Linked DNA regions of Homo sapiens: regions 2 and 3 are each linked to region 1. The links come from fine-mapping of genetic effects on gene expression. A gene starts in region 1. Each other region holds a variant in brackets. All regions are shown on one strand. Distances are from middle to middle.

Evidence for each region. PIP is the estimated chance that this variant, and not a neighbour inherited with it, causes the effect.
Region 2: its variant is the best candidate, but not a certain one, in a credible set for the expression of SH2D4A in sun-exposed skin (GTEx, PIP 0.87).
Region 3: its variant is the best candidate, but not a certain one, in a credible set for the expression of SH2D4A in whole blood (TOPMed, PIP 0.65).

The regions. Positions count from the first base shown.
Region 1 is chr8:19,310,312-19,315,883 of GRCh38, forward strand. It overlaps SH2D4A (SH2 domain containing 4A), which reads left to right and starts at 3,382. Exons shown (of 10, transcript NM_022071.4): 1 at 3,382-3,512. LOC105379306 (a long non-coding RNA gene) reads left to right here. Exons shown (of 4, transcript XR_949550.3): 4 at 1,422-1,513.
Region 2 is chr8:19,392,035-19,397,606 of GRCh38, forward strand. It overlaps SH2D4A (SH2 domain containing 4A), which reads left to right. Exons shown (of 10, transcript NM_022071.4): 9 at 1,284-1,507; 10 at 2,516-4,184. The coding sequence ends at 2,608. Among named protein-coding and RNA genes, the nearest start is that of SH2D4A, 81 kb to the left of the region's middle. The variant A/G (reference allele first, on the strand shown) is at 2,941.
Region 3 is chr8:19,512,892-19,518,463 of GRCh38, forward strand. All of the region lies in intron 2 of CSGALNACT1 (chondroitin sulfate N-acetylgalactosaminyltransferase 1), which reads right to left. Among named protein-coding and RNA genes, the nearest start is that of CSGALNACT1-AS1, 160 kb to the right of the region's middle. The variant T/C (reference allele first, on the strand shown) is at 2,863.

The DNA of each region.
Region 1 (5,572 bases):
TCTTGGAAAAACATTAAATATTACAGTAATGTAATTGATTCAAAGATGAATGTAAAGACCAATAATTTATCTTGGTGTTTATGAAGATGAAGAAATAAAGGCCCATACAGAACCATACACAAATGAAAATAGTTCAAAATCAAATCTAACTGCTCACAGAGAGCTGAAAACACAGCAGACCCTAAATATATTTTTAATGATTGATGAACTGATTAAGATTTATTTTGAGATTTGATCAGTTTTTAGTAAAGTTTAAATGTTTTTGTATTTTTCTTTCATTTGTACGTTACATTCACTGTGGTACAAGTGTATACCTGCTCTAACAGTTAAAAAGTGGTTGAGGTTTCTGATGCTGATCATAAAATATGACAGGAAAAATACTCTATTTTATAAAGAAAACATATGAAGGCAATTTTCATTGTCTGTAGAACTGAAATAAGGATTAATCTTTATCTCAGAAAAAGTGCAAAGTGGCTTATCCTGTCTTTCTGGCAACAATAGGGCTGGCAGTGTTGCACAACTCCAGGGGGCGCCTTACACATAGTGATCTCTGTGCTTGTCCCCTGCCCACCCACAGTTGTACAAGGGCCATGCTATGCCATTTTACTTGACAGCCCTGGGCAGCAGGGCTCCTAAGCAACAGTCCAAAAGGAAGGCCAAGGAACACATCCATTAAAATGTAGGCTATTTGTTTCATGGTATTCATTACCACGAATAAATGACAAATTAAAAATATTAGTAACCAATAAATAGATGTTTAGCTTTCTCTTTAAGTTCTGGCAGTGAACGCTGCAGCAGAGCATTCCTGAACACATGTTGGTGCTACCATGTTCCATGTCTGTGACTCGTCAGTGGCCAGCCCCTGTCAGCAGTCTTCCCCACATTCGTCCCTATAACACATCCTAGATCATGGAGGGGGGAAATGTTTTCCTCTGAGAGTACTGGCCCAAAGGGAGGGAAAAAGTAACTGAAGGCCCCACAAGTAATAGGCCACCTGATTTTTTTTTAGAGCATTATAAAACATTCTTGGCCAGGCGCAGTGGCTCACGCATGTAACCCAGCACTTTGGGGGGCCAAGGTAGGCAGATCACCTGAGGTAAGGAGTTTGAGACCAGCCTGGCCAACATGGTCAAACTTAGTCTCTACTAAAAAACAAACAAACAAAAAAAAAAAACAAAAACAAAATACAAAGTTAGCCAGTTGTGGTGACAGGTGCCTATAATCCTAGCTACTTGGGAGGCTGAGGCAGGAGAATCACTTGAACTCAGGAGGCCGAGGTTGCAGTGAACCAAGATTGCATCACTGCACTCCAAGCCTGGGCAAAAAGAGTGAAACTCCATCTCAAAAAAAAAAAAAAAAAAAAAAATTCGAATTGTCTACTTTTGAAATTAAGGGAAAAACATCTACCTTTTCTCTTCCAGACCATGCCAATTAAAAGAGGAAATTCCAGGAGTCAGCAGAAAGGAAACAAAAAGAGAAGGTGATAGAGGAGAGGGGAGACCAAGTGAAGAGGATGGAGAAGAAACTATAAAAATAAGAGAAGAAGAAGAGTTCATGGCAAATATAGGAAAGAGCCACGAGACAAGAAGGATGGAAATGGGCAGATGAGAGAAAAGGGAAGAGAGTCTGGGTTCTGAGTTGTTTGCATTATTTGTGTACAGCGTGCGTTCCTTTGGGCTGTCAATATTATTTCAAGATAGAAGCACCAAGGTGTTTCCTTACCTAATCTCTGAAGTGGCAGACCATCATCACTTCTGCCGGGTTCTATTGGTCAAGCATACCAACCTTTACAAAGTGGCAGGGAGCTATGCAAGGATGTGAATACCAGGAGGATAGGATCCCTGGGAATGACTTGGAAGGTAGGTGGCATGGTGGGCAGAACCCACAGCCTAGGGTGAGATGGCAGGAATGTGGAATTCCAGTACCTTAATGTGATATGAACTGATCTGAGTGAATGTGTTTGAACACTCACCACATGCCAAGAGCTCTTCTAATCTCTTTGCATGTAGCATCTCATTTAACCCTCTTGACAACTTACCGAGGCAGACACTCTTTATCTAGAGGAGGAAAGTGAGGTACAGAGGTTAGTAGCACAGTGATAAAGCTGTTATAAGGAAGGACTTGCCAGGACCTGGAGAGAGACTGGGTGTGAGGAAGGTAGGCTGTCACAGTGTCCTGTGGGATTTTTCCTAACTGATAAACCACCCTGTATGGTTCAACTGATGCATCCATGCAGGGCTAGGATTCATTCTGACCTCGTCATAGCAGCTTTCCAGGGGCCAATCCCACTCCAGCCTAAAGCACCCCATATGCTATCATTTAAACTGCAGTAGGAACTAAGCCTTACACCAGAAATTCCTCCCTGATGGGATTCCTGGAATTGTTCCTAAATAGCTGGGTCTTATTTCCTGACAATGCCGCCTGCCCCGAGGCTTGATGTAACTCTGCACAGCTTCTGCAGTTTGGAGAGGCAGGGAAATGCCATTTTGTGTTTGAATCCAGCAGGTCAGGCTCCTAAAGAGGTCAGGTAGTCCGTGGAGAGGACTACTGGTGTTTACTGTTTATTACATCTCTCCCAATACACAAAATCTGGGGTTCACCAAAGCAGGCGGTTTTCTTCCACATGCTCCTCTAGGATGGAAAATGCCCTCCAGTGGAAATGCCTTTCCACTGTGCTTCTGCTCAATTTTCCTCCAAGATTTCCTCTAACTGTGGACTGCCAGCTCCTCCCTGACGTCTTCAGGCACCAAGCCAACCTGTTCTTGTTGCAATCCTCAAGACTCCTTTCAGCATCTTAACTTTTCCCCCAGTTTTCTTTCATTTTCTCCACCTGTCTGTGTTGACTGCGGTCTCCTTCCTTCCAGCCTTTTCCTTCCTTCATCTTGTCCTACAAAGCCACACGTGTACCGACAAGTGCCAAAGAGTTTGATCATTTACTTAATGTCAACAAAAGAAAAAAAAAAAAAGCTCCAGAGTCGCCTTGGCCTGCAGCACCCAAGCAGAGTGAACAAGTGGGGCCTGCGCACCCTCCTACCCTACACCTAGCAAGGAACCCCGAGCTCTGAAACGTGGAAAGGCCCAGATCTGCAGATTTAATCTAAGTCCTGCAGTCCCCAAGAGATCACAGACTGCAGATCCCTGTCTCATGAACTAAGAGAGGAGAGGACAAGCCTACCCCGGACTACCGCAGCTCGGGGACAGCGCGCGGGCCAGGCGGCCCGAGATGCGCAGGCCACGCAGCCTCGCCGACGAGTGGCCCTGGAGAGCCTCCAGGCGCCCGGGTGGGGCCGCGATTGCGCCCCGCCAGTCACCCCGGCATGTGGGCGCGGCGGGGCGGCGCGGGCGGGACGGCTACAAGAGCTGTTTTGCGTCCGGGCCGGAGTATTTGCTCAGCCCGCCTGCGCCGCTTGGGACGCCTCTGCCTTTCCCTCCCTCCCTTCCCCGACGGCTTCTGGCGGCCAAGTGGATGTGGCGGGTGATCGAGCCACCCTGCCCAGGGGCGCCCAGCACTGGTAGGTGCTGGGGGTGGGGCGAGGCTTTGGGGAGAGTGTGCGTGGGGTGGGAGTAGGGGGAAGGGAATTTCCTCGGAGGTTGCATGGGTGCATGGGAGGCGCAGGGGCCAGAGCGGGCGGGCGGAAGCCTCACCCCCGCCTCCACCCCTTCGCGGCGCCCGGGGCGGGCTCAGGTGCGGGGTTGGGCGGCGAGAGCGGCCGCGGCGGGTGTCCGGTGTCCGGTGTCCGGTGTCCGGTGTCTGGAGCCGCTGGCTAGGTGAGCGGCGGTCCCCGGGGCCTGGGGGCTTGCAGGGGGTGGCGGGGGAACTTCGAGGGAGAGGGTCTGCCGGGGCTGAGGACCTTCGGGGAAGTTCTGGAATCCGGCAGGGACACGCGGCGCGTGCTTCCACCCGCGGGGAGTGCAGGCCCCGGGAGGGTCCGGGCTGGCCTAGAGTTTCTAGACTCCTAGCAGGAGCACGTCCTCGACTTGCGCATGGAAATCTTCCAGGAGGGAAGTCCCGGGAAACGGTGGCAGCTGGCGCAGCACCCCCGCAGCACGTTCCCCGCGCACCGGCACCCAGGGGCGCCCCCACGTGGGGTCTGGGAGCGCGCGGAGGCCAGTGCAGCGCCGCCTCCCTCGGGCTGCAGCGGCGGGGCTGGCCCAGACCCAGACCGGGTGCCCAGTGCGCTCAGCCAAGCGGCGCCCCTGCCCGCTCCTGGACTCGGGGGTCACGCGGGCACCGGAAGGAGCTACAGTTTGTAGGTTTTCTGAGTTGTCTCTCCCTTCCCAGGGAGCTTAGAGAAGCAGCAAGCGTGGCACCTCCCCCTTTCAAACAGATGCTCCTCATCGCTCCAAAGGCTTTCGTTTGATTGCTGGTTTAATAGAAACAACGACTTGGGTACGATTATTTTAAAATAGTGAATAAATAAGTGGAAAGCATACAGGGGCATAGATTTGGCATATGAGTGGAATTCTCTATGTATACTAAATCTGTGTGTACAGTAATCTCAAATTTCTGAAGAATAGTATATATTTACAAACTGCTGTCATCTCTGGTAATTTGTTTCATCCTCAAAAACAGCCCTTTTGCTGGTAGATGAATAAGATAAAGTTTCAATAAGAAAACAAAGTTGGACCACAGAGCTGGCTGTTTTAAAAGAATTAGAATTCAAACTGTATTGTTAATGTTATAGTTACACTGTCCATACCACAATACTTTTATTTATTTTTTATTTTATTAGGTCGGTGCAAAAGTAATTGCGGTTTTTACGTAAAAAAAACCGCAGTTACTTTTTTTTTGGCCATGTAAAACACAATAACTTTTGCACCGACCTAATGTTTTTAATTTTTGAGACAGGGTCTCCTTCTGTCACCCAGGCTGTGGTGCAGTGGTGCGATCTCGGCTCACTGTAGCCTCAAACTCTCCAACTCAAGAGATCCCCCCACCTCAACCTCCCAAGTAGGTGGGACTATAGGTGCGGGCCACCACGCCTGGCTAATTTTTATACTTTATGTAGAGACGGAGTTTTGCCATGTTGCCCAAGCAGGTCTTGAACTCCTGAGCTCCAGCAATCCACCCATGTCCACCTCCCAAAGTGTTGGGATTACATGTAGAACCACTGTGCCCGCCTACTATTTTTATGATTTAGCCTGTATCTAAGGCCTTTTAAAATTGTATTTTGTTTAGGTCTCAGAGTTATTCAAAAGACAGTTGTATTGTAGAACAGTGTGAAGGTGTGAGAATCAGGCCAAATCTATGGTATCATGGAAAACAACGGATTCTCTGACCTTTTAGCAATTGGTGTTCAGAATAAATAGCAGGTGTGGGCTTGTTGCTTATCATTTCTCTCTTTTAAGAAAGGGGCTGTGTTAGCTGAGCTATTCCTTTGTTGGATCTTGAATAACCGGAGATTTGCTGCCCTTGATATAGTATGGGAAAGTCCTCTGAGTTTGAATCAGTATCAGCAATGATTACTTCCTTGTCAGGGAGTGAAAGTAGGAAAGCCCTAGTTAGTTAATTTCCTGATTTCTATTTCTTCTACCCTGGCTCCACCAGGCTCCTTCGCTTCACAGTAGATTA
Region 2 (5,572 bases), 82 kb after region 1:
GTTTCTACTCTGTGAGTTTTACAGCATTATCTATTCATTGATGGATTATGATGGGAATAAAAAATTTGGAACATGAGTCAGACCTCATGAGTTTGGACTAACTGGGGAAAAGGCTGGTCTGGAGTAAGAGTGTGAATTCCTGAGGCATCTAAGCTATGTCTATATATAACTTCATATGTGTATATAAAGACACACATATAGTTTTATTCCTTTAAATGCCAGTGTAGTGTCATTTAGCAATAGCTACAGGCTAAGGTACTTTATAGAACTGAGTAGAACTGAGTCTGACTTGGCTCTGTCACTAAATTACTGAGCCTCCCACACCAGGGAGTCTCAATTTCAGCACTACTGCTATCTGGGGCTGGATAATTCTCTGCAGTGTGGGGCTGTTCTGTGTCTCATAGGCTGTTTAGCAACATCCCTGACCTCTAACCCCATCCTCCATCCATGACAACCAAAGATGTCTCTCGGACACCTTTGTCCGAGTGGTTGAGAACCACTGTCCTAGACCAAGTCAAATCACTCCCCAGGCCATTGAGTCCTTGTTGGTAAACTGAGGTAGCCTAGGGAGAGTATCTTTAAATCCCCTCCCAGATCTAACATTCCCAGGATGACCATCAAGGCGTTCTGTTAGACCCTTATAAACCGTCTAACACCTGTGTGTTGCTCTAAATGGGTGTATAAGTAGAAATATATTCCTTTTTTTTTTGTTTTGTTTTTTGAGATGGAGTCTTGCTCTGTTGCCCAGGCTGGAGGGAGTGCAGTGGCATGATCTCGGCTCACTGCAAGCTCCGTTTCCTGGGTTCACACCATTCTCCTGCCTCAGCCTCCTGAGTAGCTGGGACTACAGGTGCTCGCCAAAACGCCCGGCTAATTTTTTGTATTTTTAGTAGACATGGGGTTTCACCGTATTAGTCAGGATGGTCTCGATCTCCTGACCTCGTGATCCACCCACCTCGGCCTCTCAAAGTGCTGGGATTACAGGCGTGAGCCACCACGCCTGGCCCAGAAATATATTCTTCTTTTAAGGTTGACATTTAAGCTCTCATGTATACCTCTATACATGATTTTTATACAGTTTGCCTCTATAACCTGTTCATGTCTAATTAGCAAATACCAGAAGAATATTCCGTATTCCTAAGAAGCCCAAAACAGACTTAAAATTGCTCTTATTGTGTCTTATTTAGGCGTCATTGACTCTATATCCATGCAGCTGGATTTAACAGAGGGGATTTTCTGGAATGATTTGGCTGAAATACCTGCCTTTTTTTGCTTTGCCACAGGAATTCTCACACTCAAGAAAGCAAATGAACTTCTTCTGAGCACAGGCATGCCCGGCAGTTTTCTCATCCGAGTCAGTGAAAGGATCAAAGGCTATGCCCTGTCCTATCTGTCGGAGGACGGCTGTAAACATTTCCTCATCGATGCCTCTGCAGACGCCTACAGCTTCCTGGGCGTGGACCAGCTACAGCATGCCACCTTGGCGGATTTGGTGGAATATCACAAGGTGAAGCAATGCATAAACTTAATTTGCCTTCTGAGTTACTGTCCTGTAGCAGCTCTAACAATGAATGACAATTACAAAGAAAAGGACTGAGACAAGTACTGGGGAGGGGACAGGGGTGGGGGCTTGTCTTTGATAATTCTTCCTGATAATCAGGATTGTTAATCACATTTCATTTATCTTAGAACCTAGTTCTTCCTTAAATACTCAGGGAACCCCACTGGGGCAGAGAATACGGGAAATGCTAAAACAAAAAAATAAAAGCTGTACCCACATGGATCACATATGACAGCAATCCCCAAACTTTGTGACACCAGTTTCCTGGATGACAATTTCTCCATGGACTCAGTGTTGGGGGATGGTTTCAGGATGATTTAAGCACATTACATTGATTGTGCATTTTATTATTACATTGTTATATATAATGAAATAATTATACAGTTCAACATAGTGTAGAATCAGTGGGAGCCCCGAACTTGTTTTCCTGCAACTAGACAGTCCCATCTGGAGGTGATGGGGGACTGTGACAGATCATCAGGCATTAGATTTTCCTAAGGAGCGCACAACTGAGATCCCTCCCATGCACAGTTCACAATAAGGTTTGTGTTCCTATGAAAATCTAATGCTGCTACTGATCTGACAGGAGGCAGAGCTCAGGCGATAATGTGAATGACAGGGAGCAGATGTAAATACAGATGAAGCTTCACTCCACTGCTCACCTCCTGCTATACAGCCCAGTTCTAACAGGCCACAGACTGGTACTGGTCCATGGCCCTGGGGTTGGGGACCCCTGACCTATGAGAATTCATAGGCCTTAAGTTAGAATTCAAGCCCTGAAGGGAAAGGAGTACCTGGTCACATGTAGATAAGAAAAATGCCTTTTAAGATGATCATAAACCACAAAAGCTTTGTGTAAATCATGGGTAGGCAGCTAGTGATGTCCTCTGAGGAAGTAGGAAGAGCATGTGGTCACTACTTACACTATCTGACCCCGTGCCTTCTGATTGACAGGAGGAACCCATCACTTCCCTGGGGAAGGAGCTCCTTCTCTATCCCTGTGGTCAGCAGGACCAGCTGCCTGACTACCTGGAGCTGTTTGAGTGACAGCCTCCATCAGGGTCATCCTACAGCCTCCAAGCGGGCTTTCCCCTGGACAAATGCCACTGCAACATTTATGTGTGAAGCCAAAATCACCCTGCAGCAGAGCCAATACTGATCAACTGAAAGTAAAGTATCCATGGAGTCCTCATTGACACCTCTTTTCTGCACAAATACTGGAATTCAATGTCAAGAGAAAATGACCTCTGCTCAAAAGGGAGAAGAGTCTCAATTTCAGCAAGTACCTGTCATGAAGGGTATGACCTTAATGATGTACATAAAATAAAACAAATGAAGAAATGGAAAACTTTTAGAAATTAAGGTGTACTTGAAAACGA[A/G]TATCTATCATATGACCCCTGCACTCCCTCTGTATCATCTCAGGAGGTTTCAGGGGCCTGTTGACATGAAGTTTCGAAGTTTCATGTTGGCTTTGGAATGGTAGCAAAAGCCTTTCCTGGCTGAGATGATGCTTAAAACACACCTCACTTATTGTACATGTTGGAACCAGGACATGAGAGACATAGAAAAACAGAAGTCATGAATGTAAATTGAATGAGAGGCTTAACATGCATGAAAATACAGATGGACCTGCAGGAAAGTGAGCAAACATCGCTGAGTTTGTTTTCTTGTTCGGGAGAATGGGGCCGGGGCTGGCCTGGCCTCCCCTGGATATACTCTATAGTGCACCAAAAGGATAAAGCATCTGTACATGTATTTTTTTATTTTTTATCAGAAGTGCTTAGACAAGAACAGAATAAGCAGGCTGTTTGGATGCTACTTGTGGTTGAATTGTGTTCCCCCAAAATATATGGTGAAGTCTTAACCCCCATCCCCGTGAATGGGACCTTGTTTGGAAATAGGGTCTTTGCAGATATAGTCAAGATGAGGTCACATTGGATTAGGGTGGGCCCCAAATCCAATGACTGGCATCCTTAGGAGAAGAGAGAGTTTTGGTAATAGACACAAATGCAGTGGGAAGAAGACCAGGGGACAAGAGGCAAGTTGGAGTGATGCAGCCGGAAGGGAAGGGACACCAAGGATCTCCGGCCACCAGCAGAAGCCAGCAGAGAGGCATGGGACAGGTTCCCCACAAGCCTTAGAAGGAAGCATGGCCCTGACTTCAGAATTCCAGACTCCAGAACTGGAAGAATAAATGTCTGTTGTTTTAAGCTGCTTAGTTCATGCTGAGTTCATGCTGACTTGTTACTATAGCCCCAGAAAGCTAATACAGTCGTTTATGTAATTACATAACCTGACACACAAGATCGACCCATTCACTGCTGCCCAGTCCACCATTTTCATAATGAAGTAGAAATGGGAGGTAAGAAAAACATTCCAGCCAGTTCTGTTTAGCCCTGGCACACATATTTGTCCCGTCAGGAATCTTATGCCCTCCTGGAACCCCCGCCCACCTCAGTCCAGTCCCAGTCAGGCGAACGGCCTCTGGACAGGGACTGAGGTGGCTCTGAGCCACTGGAGATCATTTTTCTTGGAGGATGGAGATTGGCTAGTACCTCTGGCCTAACTGTGTAGGTCAATACTCTTTTACATTGCCTTCTAATAAAAGCAGAATGATACAGCAGTGTTGTTACAAGCTTGTTGGTTGCGTACAGCACTCATTGACTATAAAATGTAGCCAGAGAAGGGGATGGTTGGCATGTGTGTTCTAATGAGAAAGATGATGGTGATTATTATTTTTAGAGACAGAGTCTTGTTCTGACACCCTGGCTGGCATGCAGTAGTGCGATCACAGCTCACTTCAGCCTCAAGCGATCCTCCTGCCTCAAACCCCCAAAGTGCTAGGATTATAGATGTGAGATACTATGCCAGGTAGAGATAGCTTTTAAACATAGATCATTGTTTAACTCTTTCTTGAAATGTTCCATGTGGTTTATATTGTTAAACTATTGTAAGGATCCATCTCTTGGCTTTTGTTCCTATGATTCAACAGTCATGGCATTATTGAGAAACTTCTCAACTCTTCCTACCATTTTCTGTATAATCTTGGACAGGACAGTTTGTCTCTGAGCCTCAGTTTTTGCTTCTGAACAAAAAAAAATATGATTCAACTGGGTGATCTTTGTTATTTTCATCCAATTCTGAAATTTTAAGGTTCTAGTGCTTCTCACTGGAATGAATGGAAAGTACCCACTTGTCACCACTAATAATTAGGAAGATGTAAGATTCCAGTACTGGCCAGGTGCAGTTGCTCATGCCTGCAATCCCATCAATTTGGGAGGCCAAAGTGGGTGGATCATGAGTTCAGGAGTTCAAGACCAGCCTGGCCAACATGGTGAAACCCCGTCTCTACTCAAAATACAAAAATTAGCCGGGGACGGTGGCATGCACCTGTAATCTCAGCTACTCTGGAGGCTGAAGCAGGAGAATTGCTTGAACCTGGGAGGCGAAAGTTGCAGTGAGCCGAGATCACACCACTGTACTCCAGTCTGGCTACAAAGCAAGACTACGTGCTGGGGGAAAAAAAAATCCAATACCCCCCTGTGCCTACAGTTATCTTGTAGGAAATAATTGTGGCCATATCCAGATATAACTACACAAAGCAACATCCTATTAAAGGAAGATTTAGAAAACAGGAAGTCACCCAACTGAATTCACCCAATATTACACAGGGGAGCAGATGTGGGTTCCGGACTAGTTTATCCTGTTGGTTGCTGATTGATAGAGGAATACACTGTCCAGTGTTGGATGATATGATGGCACGAATGACACTTGAAATTCTTAGGGAAGGAGAATGGTTTACAGATTTCAGAAACTGAATTCAACCGAATGGAATTCAGGAGGCCTGAATGGTCATCCGAGCAGTGCTGTGGTCTCTGTCCTGCCTACATTTACCCTGAGTTACGGTCTGAGGTGAAGATGTCCAAACTCTGACCCTGGTCTCCTCCTCCTGTTGCCTCTGCAAGCCCAGCTCCTTGACCTGCCTGCGCAAGGTTTCTGGGTCTAGGAATG
Region 3 (5,572 bases), 200 kb after region 1:
TGTGTTGTGTAGAAGTAGCTGACTATTACAGCACACGGGCCAAGTTAACTGAGAAGTGATGAAGCACAGCAGCTCTGCTTCCCTTCCAGTCATTGTCTTTGCAGCCAACGGCAGCACAACCCACCAAGCTGCTTAAGCCAGAGGCAGGAAAACCATCCCTAGCCCTTCCTTCTCCATCATCTTCTGCCATTGACTCATCACCATGTCAACATGCTTCCTGTTCCAAAAGTATCTCAAATCAGTTCTTGCATCTCTACCTCCACCACCACCCTACTCAAGGCTCCATCATCTCCTACCAAGACCATGCACTAGACACTGAATATTAGAGGTGGGTGGTAGCACCCAGGACATAGGAGGATAGCGACAATGTGGGAGAAAAGAGGACAGCAAAGGTCTTAAGATCAAAGGAAAATACCGCAAAATGTAACGGAAGACACACGAAAGCCACTATAATGATTGAAAGACCCTAACGCTCCCAATTCCTACACCCAGTACATTCTGTTCATAGAATTTTCTCTCTCTCACTCTCTCTCTCTCTCTCTCTCTATATATATATATATATATATATATATTTTGTGCCATCTGCCTGCTGTTAAAGAAAATGAGTATATACAACCAACACCTACAACTGCTAGAATCCACAATAATCTATCTCTTATACACACTTAATTAGTTTAGGGCTGAGGCACAGTTATGCCATTGCTTAATGAAAGAAAAATGTTCTGAGAGATGCATCATCAGGCAATTTTGTTGTTGTGTGAAGATCATGGAGTGTATTTTCACAAAGCTAGATGGTAGACCTACCGCACACCTGGGCCATATGGTATAGCCTATTGCTTCTAGGCTAACAAACCTGTACCACATGTGGCTATAATAAATACTGCAGTCAACTGTAACACTATGGTATTTGTGTATCTAAACACATCTAGACAAAGAAAGGGTACAGTAAAAATATAGTATTATAATTATAGAACCACCCACATGTATTCGGTCCACTGACAAAATGTTACACATCACATAACTATACTTTCAAAGAAGCCAAAATGACCTGAAAATGAGCATAATAGCTCATCATCTCCCCAAACCACATCCACCCAGAAGTTTCAGAGCAGGGTTTTCAGGTGTCAGAGATCTTTCTGGAATGCAGGTTTCTTTTTTCCATTGAGACTTTCATTAGCATCTATCTATGGGCCAAGTGCTTTATCTTCTGCTACGTTCCTGACAGCAACTAAAGCAGATCAGTATTACTGTGTATGCACTAAGAGGTGCTTGAGCCAAATCCCAGCGAGAGGACAGGGGTCCCACTGGGGAGTCAACAATTAAATGCCAAGAGTTTGGAGTTGGCTGTGGAAGGATCTGAAGCCTTCTTCCCTGACCCCCTCCAGCCCTGACACCGAGCTACTTAGCACAGGTACTGGCTCGGGTTTCACACAGACAGCAATCTGTGTGGACAGCTGCCTTGGTGGCCCTAGCAGTTTTGCTGCTTTTCCTCCTCTTTCCTCAATACTCAAGACCAGCTGTCTCCAAACATTAATTAAACAAAAATAGCACATTTCAGGCATCATATGACTTTTGAACAGAGACTATATATATATATATATATATATATATATATATATACATGTATCTATTTAAAAATTATATACAGGCCAGGCACAGTGGCTCTCGCCTGTAATCCTAGTGCTTAGGGAGGCTGAGGTGGGCAGATCCCTTGAGGTTAGGAGTTTGAGACCAGACTGGCCAACATGGTGAAACCCCGTCTCTACCAAAAAAAAAAAAATACAGAAGAGAATTAGCCTGGCATGGTGGCTCATGCCTGTAGTCCCAGCTGCTTGGGAGGCTGAGGAAGGAAAATCACTTGAACCTGGGAGGTGGAGGTTGCAGTGAGCTGAGATCACTCCACTGTACTCCAGCCTGGGGGACAGAGTGAAACTCCGTCTCCAAAAGAAAATAAAAATAAAATATTAAATACAAGCTTTATAATGTAGTATTATGTATTTACAATATATCTAAAATAATAAAGCGTAAAATATTTTTAAATAATATTGTCTCACCCTGATGGACCATCCTGGAGCCCACAGATACCTAGCTCCAGGTTTCCAGTAGTTGATCTTCTGACTGCATTACAAGTGTCCTTGGGGCAGGGCTCTTGCCACAACTGATTCCAGGTCCCCAGTGCCAGGATCATGCCTTGATCCCCCATTCCTTCGGGAACCCAGCCTCAGAGTGCCTTTCCTGCCTCTGGACCCCACTGTCTCTATCTCAGGTCCCTAGCACCTGCTGTCAGGCCATGTCCTTTCCTGCCTCTGGACCCCACTATCTCTATCTCAGGTCCTCAGCACCTGCTGTCAGGCCATGTGACCAAACTGCCGGGACTCCACCCACAACCCACTTCCCTTCCTTCCTCACCCAAAAGACTTAGGCTCAGCCTTCAAGATGCTCCTTGAGTCTTCCCTGTGAGGTCCCCCTATCTGCAGACTCAGAGGGCGTGTTCTCCAGGGACCAGCACTGACCCAGCCCAGGGGAATGGGCTTGCAAATGACTTCACAGTCAGGAATTCCCTAGTTGGGAGGGATCCTCCATCCCCTCAACTCCTCGTTGGTCTTTTAAAAGAATTCTCAATAGAAAAGCAACTGAGAATAAACACATAAGTGTAAATCAAAAAAATAAATAACTAAGTAAAAGAATTCTGATTCAATTTCCCTGCCTTGAAGCAGAAAAAGGGAAATGTGGCAAAAAGAAGCTGGCACCTGCTAATCAGAAAATGAAAGCACACTGATCACAACCACAAGCACCAAAAGGTCAAGAAACAGACTCAAGTCCTATTTTTTTTTTATTTTGATTTTTAATTTGCTGGCAAAC[T/C]TTTAGAGAGGAGGCTTGATGGAGAGGGGCTTCCTGTCTATGCCAGACCGTCTAGTCCCATTCCTTACAACTGCCACCCTTGCTTCAGGAAGACCTAAGGCAGGTAGTTGGCATGGGTGGTGGTCATGGACCCCAGAAGGTGCAATGAGGGCAGGACACTGGCATAAGAAGATGCTACTCAAGCCAGGTGTACAGAATAAAGACGCTTCTTCCAGCTGTAAGACATCTCAAGCACACATGTGGGGCTGAGTCAGCTGCCAAACCCCGCAAGGAGACCTGACTCCCGGAGTCTTTTGGGGCTCTTGGTGCCGGTTCTCACCCCAAACTGAGAACCGCATGAAACCAGCCTTCCAACACCCTCCCCTCGTTCATAATTACAAGCACTTAGTGAGCATTTACGTTGGGGCCAGACATCATACAAAGCACTTCACAAATATTATCTCATTTAATCCTCAAAACGATCCTATGAGCTACATCTTATTAACCCCATTAAAGAAACAGAAACTGAAGCTTAAAGCAATGAAGTAACTTGACCCAGATGTTCAGCTGGCAAGTAGCAGAGCCCAGCTTCAAACCCAGCTCCGTCTGATTCTTACCCACTACGCTATACTGTTCAACCCGCTTCATAATCTCAAACTGCTTGCTGAGACCTGCTCCTCATTCTACACCCAGCGTGTCCAATTTTTCTTGTTTCTGAACTCATAAATATTATTTATGAGCTTGCCTGGCCCCTCAAACGTGGCATGAATCACTGCTTCTCTAGTTAAAATGTTTTGTACCCCCATGTAGCCGTGATCTGCATTTACACATCTCTCAACAGCTAGGCAAACTCACACTATCCTGACAAATAATCCCCATCCCGGTGTGAGCCTTGCTCTGTCCCTGCAACTAGGGCCAGGCAGAATATCTTCGCAACATTCAAGTGTTTCTAAGTGATTCCACCAGACCCTCCAGCCGTGTGGCCTCCACAGACCAGGCTCTGGGTGGGCTGGGGGAATGTCACCCATTACTCCTTGGGCCTGGCCCTTAGGCTTCCATGATGGGAGCCCCCAGGAGGGGGTGAGATGCTGGAAGTGGCTGCTTTCTGGGGATCGAGGTGAACACAGCGGCCACGGCAGTCTCAGTGGTTCAAGTGCTGCCTTTGCTCCTGGAGTTTCCATTTCCAGCTGGAATCTGCAGCCACATTTATTTCCTGTTCTCCATTCCCTACTTTGGCCATGACCCACTGCCCACCTGGAGAGGTGGTTGGTTTTTAGTTGAGATGCCTCAAACCTGATATGTGGGTGTAAGACGCCAGGAGTTTATACTCACATATCAAGTTCGAAGCATCTCAACTAAAAAGCATCACGGCAAGTAGAATTTTTAAGCAACTAAGAAATGTTCTTTGAAAGAAGAAAAAGAGGGCCAGGCATGGTGACTCACATCTGTAATCCCAGCACTTTGGGAGGCCGAGGTGGGAAGATCACCTGAGTTTGGGAGTTCGAGATCAGCAGCCTGACCAACATGGAGAAAAACCATCTCTACTAAAAATACAAAATTAGCTGGGTGTGGTGGCACATGCCTGTAATCCCAGTTGCTCGGGAGGCTGAGGCAGGAGAATCGCTTGAATCTGGGAGGCAGAGGTTGCCGTGAGCCGAGATTGCACCACTGTACTCCAGCATAGTCAACAAGAGTGAAACTCCATCTCAAAAAAAAGAAAAGAAGAAAAAGAGAATATCTCTAGAAGGGTTAAAGTGATCACTGTGGAAGGCTCTCCTGCAAAACACTGTGTATTAGTCTGTTTTCATACTGCTGATAAAGACGTGCCCGAGAGTGGGTCATTTATAAAGAAAAAGAGGCTTAATGGACTCACAGTTCCACATGGCTGGGGAGGCCTCACAATCATGGCAGAAGGGGAACAGTTCGTCTTACAAGGCAGCACTCAAGAGAGAATGAGAGCCAAGCCAAAGGGGTTTCCCCTGACAAAAACATCAGATCTCCTGAGACTTATTCACTATCAGGAGAACATTATAGGGGAAACCACACCCATGATTCAATTATCTCCCACCAGGTCCCTCCCACAACATGTGGGAATTATAGGAGCTACAATTCAAGATGAGATTTGGGTGGAGACACAGCCAAACCATATCACACTCAGTTCTCTCTTCTTTCCTCTAGAGCACTGCAAAAGTAGATGCCCATGTAATGGCCATGTGTCAAACTAACATTCTTCTGTGCAGGCAGAAACCAGCCCTGGCACTGGGGAGACTCCAAGACTCAGGAAAGTAAGCACCTGGAGAGATCAGGGTCTGAGGTAGCATCACACAGCTTCTAGAGAAATGCATGCTGTTAATTAACAAAGAGGGGACTAATTTAAAAATGAGCAACACTCCCCAGCCAAGTACTTTCTGATACAGGAGTTAAGAAGCAATCACTTAGGCAAATAGTAAGGGTATGGGAGTCCTCAGTAAGGCTTTCTTTTAAATGAAAAGCAGCCCCAAATCATTTTCTAACTAAGAGCAGCCTGAAAAGTGGAGCCCCAGACATACATAAGCAAGCTGGGAGTTTGCATGGATGATTAACAGCAGGAACTAAGGACTAGAAGTATTCAAGATGGCAGCTCCATCTTCCCTTCTCTTTATCAGCAACCTGTACTGTAAGGACCAGACAAAATGGCACCAATCAACTGGAAAGCTATTTGCATAATAATATTAGGGTGGGGTGACCAACC